Linked DNA regions of Homo sapiens: region 1 is linked to region 2. Evidence: fine-mapped expression QTL. Tissue or cell type: whole blood. Region 2 holds a variant in brackets; the other region holds the start of a gene. All regions are shown on one strand. Distances are from middle to middle.

Evidence for each region. PIP is the estimated chance that this variant, and not a neighbour inherited with it, causes the effect.
Region 1: TRIM38 starts here. The variant in region 2 is fine-mapped to the expression of TRIM38 in whole blood (INTERVAL, PIP 0.93).

The regions. Positions count from the first base shown.
Region 1 is chr6:25,959,268-25,967,375 of GRCh38, forward strand. TRIM38 (tripartite motif containing 38) reads left to right here and starts at 3,535. Exons shown (of 8, transcript NM_006355.5): 1 at 3,535-3,588; 2 at 3,782-4,015; 3 at 7,068-7,666. The coding sequence starts at 7,256.
Region 2 is chr6:26,005,505-26,013,612 of GRCh38, forward strand. No RefSeq gene overlaps it. Among named protein-coding and RNA genes, the nearest start is that of H1-1, 8.2 kb to the right of the region's middle. The variant G/C (reference allele first, on the strand shown) is at 3,622.

The DNA of each region.
Region 1 (8,108 bases), 46 kb before region 2:
GTGGATAATCATTCTATGGTTCTCCCTGTGTACATGTTAATAAATTTGTGAGTTGATTTTTCAGCAAAGTTTCCCCAGAAGCCAAAGGGGAAATTTCCCTTGGCCCCTCCACTCTCTTTTCCCAGCTCTTCTTTTACTTTCGTTTTTATTTCCTCAGCCCAGTAGGTCACAGCCTTCTTTTTATTTCTTCTCTGTCCAAACCATCAGTATATCCTACAGGTGGGAGAGAAGCAGCTCTCTGGGAAACCAGTAAGCACCATGAGTTCTGATACTTTCTAGTACCATTTGACATATTAACATCCCCGCCACCCCTAATATGTATGGACACGCACACACATACCACATCACATGCATCACACTAACACAAACTATGTATCACATACCACACACAGCACACACAGTACCACATACCCCACACAACACCCACACCACACTACGTGCATCATGCACATATGTGCACACACCTCTTGTGATGTGTGTTTAGTGCAATTCAGAAAGTTACTCTTTGATTTAATGCACATCACTATGCTTAGAAATATTCTAGTTACTGGGATTCATCAGTGAACAATATTGAAAAAAATCCATCCCTTTGCATTCTCATGAGGGAAGCAAACACTAAACAAAATAAATTAGTAAAATATTCAGTGATAAGTGCCATGGGAACAAAATAGATTTGAAAATGTTTGGGAGGGAGAGAGGGGTACACTTGCTAACAAGTGGTCAGGATAGGGTTAGTTGAGAGGCAAAATCTGAAGGAGTTGAGGAAAGGCATTCTAGGAATAGCTGAGTGCTGACTCTTGCCCACAGTGGGAACACACAGTACAGAGCTTCTGAAGGAGACTCTAGTGACCTACTTCCCATTGTGAGTCTTTGGACTCCTATATCCCATAATCACAGGATCAAGCCTAACTTTACATATTAGAGATAATGCATTCCTCCTTGGGGATAGTTCAGGTTGATTTCTCCCTAGGCCTGCCTTTGTCAACATATTCCTGAAGTCTCATCTGCACCCCATCTCTGCTTCTAATATTGGCCACTCTGTGCATGAACCAGCCCCTCCTTCCTGCAATGGGAAACAGGTGTGAGATGGGACAGCTGTCACAATCCGTTTTGCTTTTGTCTTGCTGTTATTATTGGTAATGGTAGTTTGTTTCCTTTTTAGCATTCACTAGCTTCCTTTTCCTGATCCTTTGATAGTGTTACCAGAAAGGGGGTCCCAACCCAGACCCTAAGAGAAGGTTCTTAGATCTCGTGTGAGAAAGAATTTGGGGCAAGTCTACACAGTAAAGTGAAAGCAAGAAAGTAAAGGAATAAAAGAACGGCTACTCTACAGGCAGAGCATCAGCTTCTGGACTAAGGATACTGATATGGTTTGGCTGTGTCCCCACCTAACTCTCATCTTAAATTCCCACATATTGTGGGAGGGACCTGGTGGGAGGTAATTGAATCATGGGGGCAGGTCTTTCCCTGAGTAATTTATACTGCTGTTCTCATGATAGTCAATAAGTTTCATGAGACCTGATGGTTTTATAGAAAGGAATTTCCCTGCACAAGCTCTTTGCCTGCTGCCATCCATGTAAGACCTGACTTGCTCCTCCTTGCCTTCTGCTGTGGTTGTGAGGTCTCCCCAGACACGTGGGACTGTAAGAGCATGAAACATTTTTTCCTGGTATAAATTACTCAGTCTCAGGTATGTCTGGATCAGCAGTGTGAAAATGGACTAATACAGATACTTACAGTTATTTCTTGATTATGTACTAAACAAGGAGTGGATTATTCATATGTTTTCTGGGAAAGATGTGGGCAATTCCCAGAACCAAGCGTTCCTCCCCTTTTTAGACTATATAGGGTAGCTTCCTGACATCGCCATGGTATTTATAAACCACTATGGAGCTGGTGGGAATGCCTTCTAACTTGCTAACACATTATAATTCGTGTATAATGAGCAATGAGAATGACTAGAGGCCACTCTTGTTGCCATCTTGATTTTGGTGGGTTTTGGTCAGCTTCTTTACTGCAACCTGTTTTATCAGCAAGATCTTTATGACCTGTGTCTTGTGCCAACTGCCTATTTCATCCTGTGACTTACAATGCCTAACTTCCTGGGAATGCAGCCCAGTAGGTCTCAGCCTTATTTTACCTAGCCCCCATTCAAAATGGAGTCATTCTGGTTTGAACACCTCTGACAATAGGACAGATCTGGAATGAGCCATGCCTGGGTACAGAGTCACATCCACAACAATGAAAGTTGTAGATATCTGCAAGGACTCATCGTGGGACCAAGGATTCAGGGGCTCATTCTTTCTCCTCTCTCTGTGTGCTGGTTGCCTCAGGAGTAGAATGTCCCATGCTATGCATGGGGTCTGCAACCATCATGCCAGGGCATGATGAATCGTAGGTGGCAAAACAACAGAAGGCTCTGTGAGCACCCAGGAGGGTGCAGTGCTGAAGAGTCTTCTGCTTGGTATAGGAAGAAAGGAACGTGTTTCCCAATCTTGCCTTTATTTTGAGTAGTTGGACCAGAGGGATTGCAGCTGGGCCAAACTCCATGTTCCATTGGCTATCAGGGTCAGCAGGCAGGCCAGGGGCCCAGACAGGCCAGTGGCTCCCAGAATTCAAGTTTAATTTCTCCTCCCACCTGTGTCCTGAGCTCCCCTTACTGGTTCCCTTGGACCACTGCATCTACTTAAGCCAGCATTTATTATGTTGTTATCATAAATGCCTCTTACACCTGAGACTTATAAATGTGACAAGCTCTTATTGTGAGATAGTAATCCATCTTTTTTCCCCATGAAATAATAATTCTAACGGGTGGTGATAGTACTTTTCCTTTCATTTTGAAGTGGAGAAGCTGGAGCTAAGTCATTAAGGACTTGACCCTGGACCCCACAGCCTTTTCTCCACAAAGCACAAAGCAGAGTGATGGTCCCAGGGATCCCACACAGCTCTAAGCTGGGGGCACTCACTGCTGGGCCACTAGTGACTCCCATTTTCTATCCTGGCTGACCCTCGCTATTGAAGAAGATCTGAGTCCTGCAGAAGGACAGCAAGGAGAAAAACAAGACACAGAACGGGACAGAGAAGAATAGAAAGCTGACTCAGATGAATTTTGTGATGCCAATGAGTCCTACTGCTGTTACCACCCCTTTTTCCACCACACCCTTCAGAGCAGTTATAGAACCACAAGCAACCCATAAATAGCAAAAGAAGTAACATCAGCTAGGAAGGCTTAAGGACTCCCAAGGGAGTTGGTGGCAAAAGTAGAAAGATCTCAAATCAGAGTCTGTGAACTGAACCTCTGCAGGCTTCCTGTTTTTAGATACTCTGTGTTGGGGTCACATGATAGTTTACAGGGTTATTAATTGGTTCCTTCTTTTTATTGCTGTAAAAGAAGGATATTTTCTTCCTACGTTTCCCCCTCCTTTACCGGAGAGGCGGAGTGCAAATGATATGAACAACGTCACTAGTTTTCTCCTAAATCTTATGAGCCCCGCCTCCCACAGTAGTTTCACTTCTCAGTTTAATCCGGTCTGAGTTAACTTCCTGACCCAGGAAGTGGCAGCAACAGAGGGGACTAGCAGCGAATATGTAAGTGTCTGAGCAGTGAAGGTTACGGAAAAGGTCCAGGCTAAGGTTTTCTCAGTGGATATGTGAGTGTGTACTGATGGCAAGTGGGGTGGGGAATATATTTCGTGACAGCAGGGCCCCTCCAACTCTGAAAATGGTCAGGACTTTCTTTGTTTTACAGCTCTCACCTCTTTCCTGCTCTTTCTTTCACCAGACTTTACACCAAATCTCAGAAGATTCAGAACTTAGATGAGTGGGGCCCAGGACAGGAACCCTGGAGCCTTGGAAGGAGGGGAGCCCCATCTCCCCAGAAGAGCAGTGACCCCAGCAGAGAGGGGCCTGGTGTATCACTGGAGGAAATAGCCTGCCAAGGAATACACGTCTTCAGAAGAAATTCTGTGTGGCTTCAAGAGACTGATCAAATTGTGAGAGGAAAACAGCCTACCCGGTAATTGTAGTTAAATTACTGTTTTTTATTCTAGGCACTCTTCAAACTTCCTCCTGACTCTGCCCCTGTCCTAGAGGAGCTCCCAGGAGTAGGGGTGTGGGGGCGGGCGGGGGGGAGGGATCGGGGGTACAGGGAGAGCCCAGCTAGGTTCTCAGAAGAGGCAGGCTTTTTCGCTCCTGGTCACTCCTCTGTTGCCTATCCCTGGCCTCCCCCATCTTCTTTCTGCCTTCCCTACCTCCTTGGGTCTGCAAACTCTTTATGTTGCAATCACTCTGAACATGTCTCTTGAGATAGGTCCTGTCCTGGAGAAGAGATAGTAAAAGTAAACTCCCCAGTTCTGCAGGAGCTCTGATCCCATAGAAATAACTGCTCCTCAGGAGCAAACCCTCTGCTCTGCAGCCTTCTTTCCAATTCTTATTCCCTCAGTTTAGGGAGAGGGCACAAAAAGGATAAACCGGTTCTTCTGGTTGTTCTGGTTGCCTTGATTGCTTCCATTATCCTCCTGGTTGGGTCTCTAGCAAGACGTTATTAGCCAGGGAAGTCCCACTTAGGCACCCCTCTCTGCAGAAGAGGTATTCACTATTCTCCTTTCTCTTTCTTTTGCCTATTATACCTCTGCTCCTGAAAGCAAAAACAACAACAACAAAAACACAAACAAAAAACAACCGACCTTATTAACCAGTGTTGGTTGTTGTTCTTTGTGGGGGATGGGGGGGGTCGAGGTGGAGTCAAATTTTATTGTCATGATGGTGTAGGAGCCAAGGGAACACTTCCCCTTTGCCTTCTGAAGTTCACTGAAAAATCGACTCACAAAAGGCAGGCTAATTGGAGAAAAGGCATACAAATTTATTAACAAGTACATGGGCTAGAATCACAGAGTGATTACCCCCTCTGCCAATGGGGGTAGATACTTATATAGCCTTATTTATAAATACTTATGTATAAATACATAAATATAAATATGTATGCATATGTATGTATGTATAAATATGTATGTATACTGTATAAATATGTATGTATAACGTTTATACATGTATACATATTTATTTCAGAGGGGAAGGGTGATATCAGGAGAATATAGGTAATTCTTTGAGGGGCAGTAAATGATTACTAGGGAGAATAAATGAATATTTGGGAGGATGAATGAATGGAGGAACAGAGTTTAACTTGTAAATGGTTCTCTTTGGAAAATGAATGAGCCTGAGAGACAGACATTATTTTGTGAAAGTGTCTGATTAGGTCTGGTTACATTCTTAGTCCTCTTTTCTTCAGTACAAAATGAGATAATAGGGGTTGGAAGGAAAAACAATTGTTCTTCTTGTCTAGTGTGACTGGTCTTTATGTAGATAGGGGAAAAGTCTCTTCCAGCATCTGCTGATCTCTAAGGGCCTTTAATTCAAAATACTCATTATACCAGGGAGTCATATATTGGGGTGAAGCTCCCCATACTCCTTCAATGGAATCTGTCACAGATCACCCAATTGCATAAGTGTTACTACTAATTACAAAGAGTAATTCTGGTACCAATTATTCTTTTTTTTTTTTTTAAGACAGATTCTCGCTCTTTCACCCAGGCTGGAGTGCAGTGGTGTAATCTGGGCTCACTGCAACCTCCCCCTCCGGAGCTCAAGTCATTCTCCTTCCTCAGCCTCCTGAGCAGCTGGGATTACAGGTGTGCACCACCACATCTAGCTAACTTTTTGTATTTTTAGTAGAGATGAGGTTTTGCCATGTTGGTCAGGCTGGTCTCAAACTCCTGACCTCAGGTGATCTGCCCGCCTCGGCTTCCCAAAGTGCTAGGATTACAGGCGTGAGCCACCGTGCTGGCCTGGTAACAATTATTCTTGAAGTTAACTAGAATAGGAAAGAGTTTCACACTCCCTGAGTTCTCTCTTTTACAGCTTTTGTGAGGAAGCCTGCATTGCTTCTCCCAGCACTTGGTCCAAGGTAACTTTCTGTGATAACAGAATGTTGTATATTGAGGCTGTTATGTAGCCACTAGTCACATGCAACTATTAAGCAATCAAAATGTGGCAACTGGAACAGAAAAACTGAATTTTTTCATTTTAATTTTTATTAAGTTAAATTTAAATTCCTACTCATGATAGTGGCTACTGTATTAGCTATACAGCTAGATGTTTGTGTATCCTCTAAATTCCAATGCATTTCTTCTTTCTGGAGAGAAGACTTTAGCTGGACATGGTGGCACATACCTGTAGTCCCAGCCACTCTGCCAGGGTGAGGCAGGAGGATTGCTTAAACCCAGGAGGTCGAGGCTGCAGTGAGCTGTGGTCATGCCACTGCCCTCCACTACAGCCTGGGCAAGAGAGCGAGAACTTGTCTTATAAGAAAAGAAAAAGAGGCTGGGCACGGTGGCTCATGCCTGTAATCCTGGCACTTTGGGAGGCTGAGGCGGGTGGATCACAAGGTCAAGAGATCGAGCCAACCAACATGGTGAAACCCCATCTCTACTAAAAATACAAAAATTAGCTGGGCGTAGTGGTGCACACCTGTAGACCCAGCTACTACTCGGGAGGCTGAGGCAGGAGAATCGCTTGAACCCGGGAGGCGGAGGTGCAGTGAGCCGAGATAGCGTCACTGCACTCCAGCCTGGGTGACAGAGTGAGACTCCGTCTCATTAAAAAAAAAAAAAAAAGTTAGAAGACTGAGAAAAGAAAAATAATGAAATAATTTAGAGCAGTCTGAGCTATGTGAGGTATGCAAAATTTATCAGGACAAGTGAGGCAGGAGTATAGGTCTTCAGTTAAGACCCCATGTTTAAAAGCATTTTGTTCCTGACTGGCTGCCTCATCTATTACCTACATATTCCCGAGATTTGTAATACAAAGAACAATGTATAGCCAGTCAAAAGCTTATGCTATTTTAATGTAAATTCTTGGCAAACAACTTTAAAACTGCTTTAAAACTGCTTTTTTTCCTCTAAACAACCACTTGTAACTGCTTGCTAATGAGGGCAACTTGAAACTCTGCACTTGGGTTGCAGTTCTCAAACGTGGCCCAAACAACCTCAGCCTCAACTTCTTCCTTTTAGGTCCTCTTTTCTTCAATACAAAATGAGATAATAGGGGTTGGAAGGAAAACCTTCAAGACCTATGGAAGTCAGTTGCAGCCAGCTCATCACATAGAGGTGCAGGTGAGGTGTATTTTCATCACGGTGGAAAATTCTGGCTGCTTCATCTCCATCTCTAGAGCCAATATTGGAGCTTTTCAATAAAAGCTATGGCCTCAACCACCAGCACCAAGAAGATGATGGAGGAAGCCACCTGCTCCATCTGCCTGAGCCTGATGACGAACCCAGTAAGCATCAACTGTGGACACAGCTACTGCCACTTGTGTATAACAGACTTCTTTAAAAACCCAAGCCAAAAGCAACTGAGGCAGGAGACATTCTGCTGTCCCCAGTGTCGGGCTCCATTTCATATGGATAGCCTCCGACCCAACAAGCAGCTGGGAAGCCTCATTGAAGCCCTCAAAGAGACGGATCAAGAAATGTCATGTGAGGAACACGGAGAGCAGTTCCACCTGTTCTGCGAAGACGAGGGGCAGCTCATCTGCTGGCGCTGTGAGCGGGCACCACAGCACAAAGGGCACACCACAGCTCTTGTTGAAGACGTATGCCAGGGCTACAAGGTGAGTGTGTGGGCCCGGGAGCTTTGGTAAGTACCAAGTCTTATCCTGCTCCCCAGGAGCTGAGATGATTTAACTTGAAACCTAACATTATGACTTGGAAATACAGCTTTCATCATGTCATTCTTCTGAAAAATAGTTTATGATGATTTCTTGCTCAATTATCTAGACTGTCCATCCTGACCTTCAATGGGATGGTTGGACTCTTATCTCTATCCATTTGTGTTATGATGAATTTCTTTTTGCTTTAGAACAGGTTGTTCTCAAACCAAACACCCGCATTTTTTCTTGTTTCACACCATGAATATCATTTGAAAAACCACAATATGTAAAGCCATGCAGTAGGGCCTGAAAACAGGGAAGAAAGACCCATCACCTTTTAGGTATCTACAGTCTAGTAAAGAAAACAAACCATCAAAAATGTCTGCCTGGAGGTCCCTGGTTT
Region 2 (8,108 bases):
ATATAATGAAGGGATATCTACAAAGTTGTGACAGGGCTAATGGGAAGAACAGGGGATATGAGGCAGCCCAAGATCAGCAACAGTAGTGATCCAGTGTCACCCTGTGCTGGTTATGAAGATTTAGTCTCTTCTATCTTTTCCAATACCGCTTTGCTAGCCACCTCCCCAAACCCTACCAATAGAAAGCACTGGAGGAAGACTAGAGGGCTGGAAGGATGTGAAAAGATTTCCCACTTTGTTTGTTGACATCCTCACAGAATGGGTTCTTCAACCTGGCAGTGGCAGTTGAATCCAGTAACAGCAGTTGGCTTCAGTTTGGAGATCTTCCATGCTCCTAAAATCAGCCTCATCATGCCTCTATCTACAGACATATCATCATCAGTGGTCCAGCATACACTCCTCAGAGGTCCCAGTTCTGGGGATCTCTTCAAAGAATCTTTTCCTTGTTCTCCTAAACCTGGAGGTGGTAGTTGCTTTCTGTCATTACTATCTCTGATACGTTTGTCCACTTTTCCATTTTCAGTCCTCTTATAACTAGTTAACAACCATTCCCATAAAATTCTTTGTTCAATTTCAGTGCAATTTCTAGCTCCCAGTTATACCCTGACAGACACACCTTTAAATCTGAAGAGGCAATGGGAGGGAACCTGTAACCAGAGCTAGGCCAGAGCTGGGACTGTGGAGGAAGAGCTGCCCACCAAGCAGGGGGGTGATGCAGGGAATAAGTACACTAACCTCTCTCTCCTTTGCCATCTACATTCCTGCTGGGCTGATCACTGGCCAAATCCAGCTGTTGCAAGAGGGCAGGGCTGCCCAGCTAATGCTATCTGTAGAAGCTGGGCTTCTGGGGCACAGAGCAAGTCAGAGACAGGCAGAACAGGGATGTGGGTTTGGACCAAACACTGAATAAACCAGATCAAGGATTCTTCTATCAAGACAAGTTTATATACTTGCAGCTTGATCCCATTGTTTCCCTTAGATAACTGTGCACTTGTTTTTGTCTGCCCTCTTTCCTGTGTCTACACTCTTCCTGTCTTATTCTATTTACACATAGCTCAGTCTTTTCCAATTAAAAAAAAAAAAAAAAAGCTTTCCCTCTCCCAAATCTCCATGCAGCTGCTGACTTCTCTCTTCCAAAGCCACACTGTGGGAGAGTCAGTTACACCTCCTGACCTCTGACAGGTGCAACACACTATAGTGAGGCTTCTGCCCTTGGTATTCCTCTGGCTCCATTATTTACAAGGTCACTAATGACTTCCTATTTCTAAATCCAGAGTGCCTTTTTAGTTATCTTCCTTGCCTTCTTGGCATCTCTAGATAACAATACTTGTCTCATTCTAACTTTTGTCTCTCCTTACAGCTCTTTCATTCATAATTCATTGTTATTCAGTTGGAGCCTTGATGGTGTTAGGGAGAAGCAGCATTCTGTAGTCAAAGTGTTAAGCCTCAGTTTATTAGCATGCCTATATCTTGGGGCTGGGACCGTCACAAGTGTTTATAATGATACAACTCCTCCTCCTCCTCCTTCTCCTCCTCCTCTTCCTCAAGTGTTTATAATGATACAACTCCTCCTCCTCCTTCTCCTCCTCCTCTTCCTCAAGTGTTTATAATGATACAACTCCTCCTCCTCCTCCTTCTCCTCCTCTTCCTCAAGTATTTATAATGATACAACTCCTCTTCCTCCTTCTCCTCCTCCTCAGACCTTTGCTCCTTTCCTGGCTGCACCATTTCCAATTTATTTTCATGAAGCTCTGATCCCTGTTGACTAATTTTCTTCCCTTAAGTGAGACAGAAAGCCTAGATGAGGCTGCAGTGGGAAGAATTACCTTCTCCCAGCTGGGATAAGACTCTGGCAAAATGTTTTCCCCTTGAGAGTAGGCCTTTGTTTTGAAGAAGGTTCTGGGGTGTATTTCATAATAATTCTTCTCTCCCTGCCAAAGCCACAAGAGGATCCTTCTCAGATCTTCACTGCAGGAACCTGGTGGGCTTTCTGATGCCCACAAAAGTGTGGGAGCTTCTCACTCTCATGGGCATTCACAGTTGGCCTCCAGCTTTTTGTCAGAGTTACCAATTTAAATGTTCTCAAATGTGATACTGTCTCAACTTCCAGGACATCACACACTCATGATTTTCTACTATCCTGACATTTGCAGTCTTTTTAGCAGATCTCCCTCCCTCTCCCTGCACCATGGGTATTGGTCATCTCAGGATCTGTCCCAGGCTTTCTACTCTTCATGCCCTTTGAGACAACACATGATCTGACCTGCCCTTTCAGGAAGAAATGTTCTGTCTACCTACTTGCTCCAGTTAAAAACCCTAGTGTCATCTTTGACCCTTCTCATCCCTACATCTAATCTGTTGATTCTACCTCCTAATTTTCTCTCAAACGCATCTATTTTTCTTCAATTTCAGTGCTACTCTCTTGCTCTAATTGTACATCATCTTTTTTAGAATTACTGTGACATTTTCTTGCCTCCAGTTCTGCCTCAGTCCATCCACTTCACAGCTAAATTTTGGATGTACACTTTTGAACTATTACTGTAGCAAAAGTAATATGTAATAACTGTAATGCAGAAATATAAAATATGCAATATAAAAGAAATACATGCATAAATGATCCCAACACTAAGGAAACAATATTGATCAATAATTAAATAATTGGTGGATAGTGAATGACAACATAGAGCAAAGTGTTCAGTAGGTTTTAAAAGCTGTGGGTTCAATAAATGCTCATGAAGCTTGTTCAGGGGCTTGCAAAATATGTAATTTGAATTTTTAAAGAAAAGGAATTTCAGATAAGAAAAAACATACATAACATGAAACAATACTTGTGGTGGTTTCAGGGAGGTCATGTTCTCACATTCAGGTGCCAAGGCCACCGTACATCCGGACACTGAGGCCACGGACTTGGTCTGCAACCTCCATGACAGCCTTGTAGATTTGAAACCGAACTCCAAGGAGCAGTTGTGCTGTGAGTTCCAGAGTTTGGGGACAGAGGAAACACCATTCTTTGGAAGTCTAACTTCCTTAAGAGGTGTCCCTTAGACATCTAGTGTCCGGTGTTATGGAGGTCCTTGTGCTCTGAGGAAGGAGCCCCTTGTTGATTGATGGAGCAAAATTTTTTTAAACAAGGAACTGTACCCGTATCTGGGCATGAAGCCAGAGAAATCCCTGAGGGCAGGGCCAAGGCTCTCAAAGATTTTCAGGGAGATTCCCAGCCTTTTTAAGTCTCGCCTATTCTTTTTTTTTTCTCTAACTGGCCATTTTGTATATATGGAGGTTATTGATTTTTTTGCTTTTATATCCTGATATTTTAATAACTGTTCATTTTTTAGTTATTTGAATTATCTACATTGATTATTTGAATGTTCTTTTTTTTGTTTTTTTGAGACGAAGTCTCGCTCTGTCGCCCAGGGTGGGGTGCAGTGACAGGAACTTGGCTCACTGCAACCTCTGCCTCCTGGGTTCAAGCGATTCTCCTGCCTCAGTCTCCTGATTAGCTGGGATTACAGGTGCCCGCCACCACACCCAGCTAATTTTTGTATTTTTACTAGAGATGAGGTTTCACCATGTTGGCCAGTCTGGTCTCAAACTCCTGACCTCAGGTGATCCACCCACATC[G/C]GCCTCCCAAAGTGCTGGTATTACAGACATGAGCTATTGCACTTGGGCTTTGAATTTTCTACGTATCTGACTTCTACGAAGAAAACTATAATGTATTACTCAGATAAATTAAACAGGAAAACTAAATAATGGAGGAGTATATTTACAGTTGAAGCGGTCAATATTTTAAAGGTATTAATTGTCCCCAAACTGATCTACAAAACCATTGTAATCCTAATCAGATTCCCAATAAGCTTTATTATAGAAATTGACAAACAGGGTTCAAATTTAATACACAAATCCAAGGGCCCAAAATAAACAAATCTGTTGCTTTATTAAATATCAAAACTGATAAAATGACAATAATCAGGGCAGTGTTGTCCAAAAATAGACAAACGAATGGAACAGGCTCAAACAAATATGGACATTGATTTACATCTAAAGTGGCACCATACAACAATGGTGAAAGGACTCTTGTAAATAAATGGCATGGGACAATTGTATAGCCTTTTAAACAGAAAAAGAACAAAAAGGAAAAAAAAAGAAACTTGACCCCCTACTTCACACTATACACAAAAAACAATTCCAGGGGAACTAACATGAAAAGCAAAATAAAGTTAAACATGAAAAGCAAAATAAAGTATATGGTAAAAAATTTATCTTACCCAAAAAGAGGTCTAGCCTTTGCCCTCAGCTACTGGGAGATGAATTTTAGACCCTTGAAATGTTCTCACTGATAAGTGTGTCTTTGTTTACCTGGAGGTTTTGACCACCACACAGTCAACAATGTGATTTATAATAGGAACTTTGAGCCACACAGTATCAGCTCTACCTGTGGAGGTAGACTAAAAGATCGGCCATGTGAGCAGTCAACCATGGCAGGCCATTAAAACTGCACACTGAGGCTCGGGTGAAATACAGTTCTCTTGTATACGGTTTCTACATGGTTTTAGTTCCTGTGGTCTACTGCAGTCCAAAAATAATAAACGGTAAATTTCAGAAATAAACATTCACCTAACTTTTATACAGTATATTCTTAACAATTATTCTAATTTATTGTTATTAATCTCTTACTGTGCCTAATTTATAAATTAAGCCTTATCATAGCTGTGTCTGTATAGGAAAAAACAGCTATATAGAGTTCAGTACTATCCATGGTTTCAGACATCCACTGGAGGTCCTGGAACATATGTTTTGTGCATAAGTGGGGACTGCTCTGTACGTCATGTGTATTGTCACACATTAATGCTGGGAAAGTAATACTGTTCATATTACTGGGAGAGGACAACTGGAAGCTCATATTTGGAACTTGCCTGGATTGTGCCTATATTAGTTTCCTAGGGCTGCTGTAACAAAGAGCTAGAAGCTAGGGTGGCTTAAAACAACAAATATATTCTCTTGTAGTTCTGGAAGCTAGAAATCTGACATGAAGGTATCATTAGATCTATGCTTCCACTGAAGCCTGTAGGAAAATCCTTCCTTGACTCTTCCTAGCTTCTCGTACTTGCTGGCAACCTTTGACATTCCTTGACCTGCAGCTGCATAACCTCAGTCTCTGCCTGTGTGTGTCTGTCTTCACGTGACCACCTTAGAAGAATACTAGTTCTATTAAAAAATATATATATACTACTTCTTCTAAGTCACCAGCCCATCATACTGTACTATAACCTCATCTTAACTAATTATATCTGCAACTATCCTATTTCCAAATAAGGCCACAATTCTGAGGTACTGGGAGTTGGGACTTTAAACATATCTTCTGGGGGCAAGGGAGATCTGCATACAATTCGATCCATAATACTGCCTTGTGTGTTTCTTTTCTCAGCTGATTTTAATCTTTATTCCTTGAGTTGTTTCCCCTTTTCAACTATTACAAACAATGAATTTTGCTGTGTATGTGTCTTGGTATATATGTGCACACATATCTGCTGTTTGTATACCTCAGAGTGAAATTGTTGGGTCAAATGCTAAAATCTTTTTAAAAGTAGTTGTATAATTTTACATTGCATTGGAATGACATAATAAGCTATATATCCTATAATAAATTGTAACCATGAGGCTAACAGCTTCAGCAAGTTCTGTGAGTCCTTTTAGCAAATTACTAACCTAAGGTTGATTGGGAACCACAGACCTCCCAACTTATAATTGGTGTTAGAAGTGAGGGTAGTCTTGAGAACTAATTTCACAAGAAGGTATTATAAAATAAGATCTTCATGACCTTGAAATAGAAAATGATTTTTTAAATAAGATACAAAAAAGGTTGTGCATAAAAGGGCAGTGTGCTTAATTTGAGTACACTAAATTAATGACTTTAATGCATCATGAGATATCATTGGCTGGGTGCAGTGGTGGCTCACACCTCTAGTCCCAACACTTTGGGAGGCCAAGGTTGATGGATTGCTTGAGCTCAGGAGTTTGAGACCAACTTGGGCAACAGCACCATCTCTACAAAAAAATACAAAGATTAGCTGGGCATGGTGGCCTGCACATGTAGTCCCACCTACTAAGGAGGATAAGATGGGAGGATCGCTTGATCCTGGGAGGTGGAGGCTGCAGTGAGCTGTGATTGTGCCACTGCACTCCAGCCTCTGACAGAGTGAAGACAAGTTACAGAGGAAATACCTGCAACACATAAAATGGATAAAGGGTTCGTGAGCAAAATTTAAAAACTTAAAACAGAAAAGACAGGCCAGGTTTGGTGGCTCACACCTGTAATCTCAGCATTTTGGGAGGCCGAGGCAGGTGGATCACCTGAGGTCAGGAGTTTGAGACCAGCCTGGCCAACATGGTGAAACCCCGTCTCTATCAAAAATACAAAAATTAGCAGGGCGCGGTGGTATGCACCTGTAGTCCCAGCTACTTGGGAGGAGGAGAATTTCTTGAACCCAGGAGGTGGAGGTTGCAGTGAGCTGAGACAGCGCCACTGCACTCCAACCCGGGTGACACAGCAAGAGTCCACCTCAAAAAAAAAGAAAGGACAAAAAGGACAAAAAGACAGCTATCTTAAACCAACAAGAAAAAACACAATCTTTTTGGCCTAAATTGTGTTCCCCCAAAATTGATGTTGAAACTCTAACACCCAATGTGCCTATATTTGGAGATAGGGATTTTGGGACTTTATGGAGATATTTAAGGTTAAATGAGGTCATAAGAGTAGGCCAGTAGTCTGATAGATCTGGTGTCCTTATAAGAAAAGGAAGAGACATGAGGTCATTTTATGGGCATATGAAGAGGCCACATGAGGACACAAAAGGCGACTGCTGTGGTTTGAATATGAGATGACATCTCACATCTGCCATAACAGTAAGAAGGCCCTTGCCAGAGGTGGGCCCCTCGACCATAGGCTTTATAGCCACCAGAATTGTAAGAAATAAATCTGTATTCTTTATAAATTATTTGGTCTCTGGTATTCTGTTCAGCACCAAACAATCTAAGACAGCAACTATCTTCAGGTCAATAAGAGAGCCCTCACTAGAAACTGAATCTCTTGGCACCTCAATTTAGGATTTCTGGCCTGGCCTTTAGAACTGTGAGGTAATAAACTCCTTTTGTTCAAGCTACCTAGTCTAGTATTTTTGTTATGGCAGCCCAAGTCGACTGATATACAATCCAATTAAGAAAAAATGGGCAAAAGATGTAAAATAAAACCATAATGAGATAATACTGCACATCTGCCACAATGGATAACATCTTCAAAAGATTAACAATTTTAATTGGAAAAAAATATTGGGAAGTATATGGAAGAACAGGAATTCCCAGCTAGATTCCATCAACATTAGGTTTGTGAGGTTCATCCATGCTGTTTATAACTGTGGTTTTAATTTTCATTTCATCGCATGTAAACCTAATATCACCACTTTCAAAAAGAGTTTAGCATTTGACCCAACAATTCCTCTCCTAGGTATACAAACAAAATATGTATTCCTATATATACCAAGACACATACACAGGAATATTCACGGTATTGTTTATATTAGCTGAAAAAGGGAAGCAAATATGCATCAACAGTAGACACCTAAATTGTTGCACTCATAACATGGAATATTACATAACAATAAAAATGAATTAAAGTTATACACAGCAACACAGATGAATCTATTCAAACCTAATGTTCTGGAGTGAAATATGTCAGGTACATAGGATTACATTTGTTTTATTTCCATTTTATATGTTTCAAAAACAGGCATACTAAATTACAGCATTGGAAATCAAAATAGGGGTTATGTTTAGGGCAGATGGAGTGATAATGTGACTGGAAGCAAGCATCAGGCGGCTCTGGGAGGGTTGGCTGATTTTCTGTTTTTTTACTTGTGTGGCAATTATTATGGTGTTCACTTTGTGTTCATTTATTGAGCTTTGCATTTTTGTTTTGCTGTGGTTTTCTGTTTATATGTTATGCTTCTCAGTTTAAAGAATGTTGAAATCTTCTAATACGAAATTTTTTTTCAATGAGAAGGATTTTAAGCATCCAGAATCAATTTTAAAATCTCCAATTTGCTTTATATGTA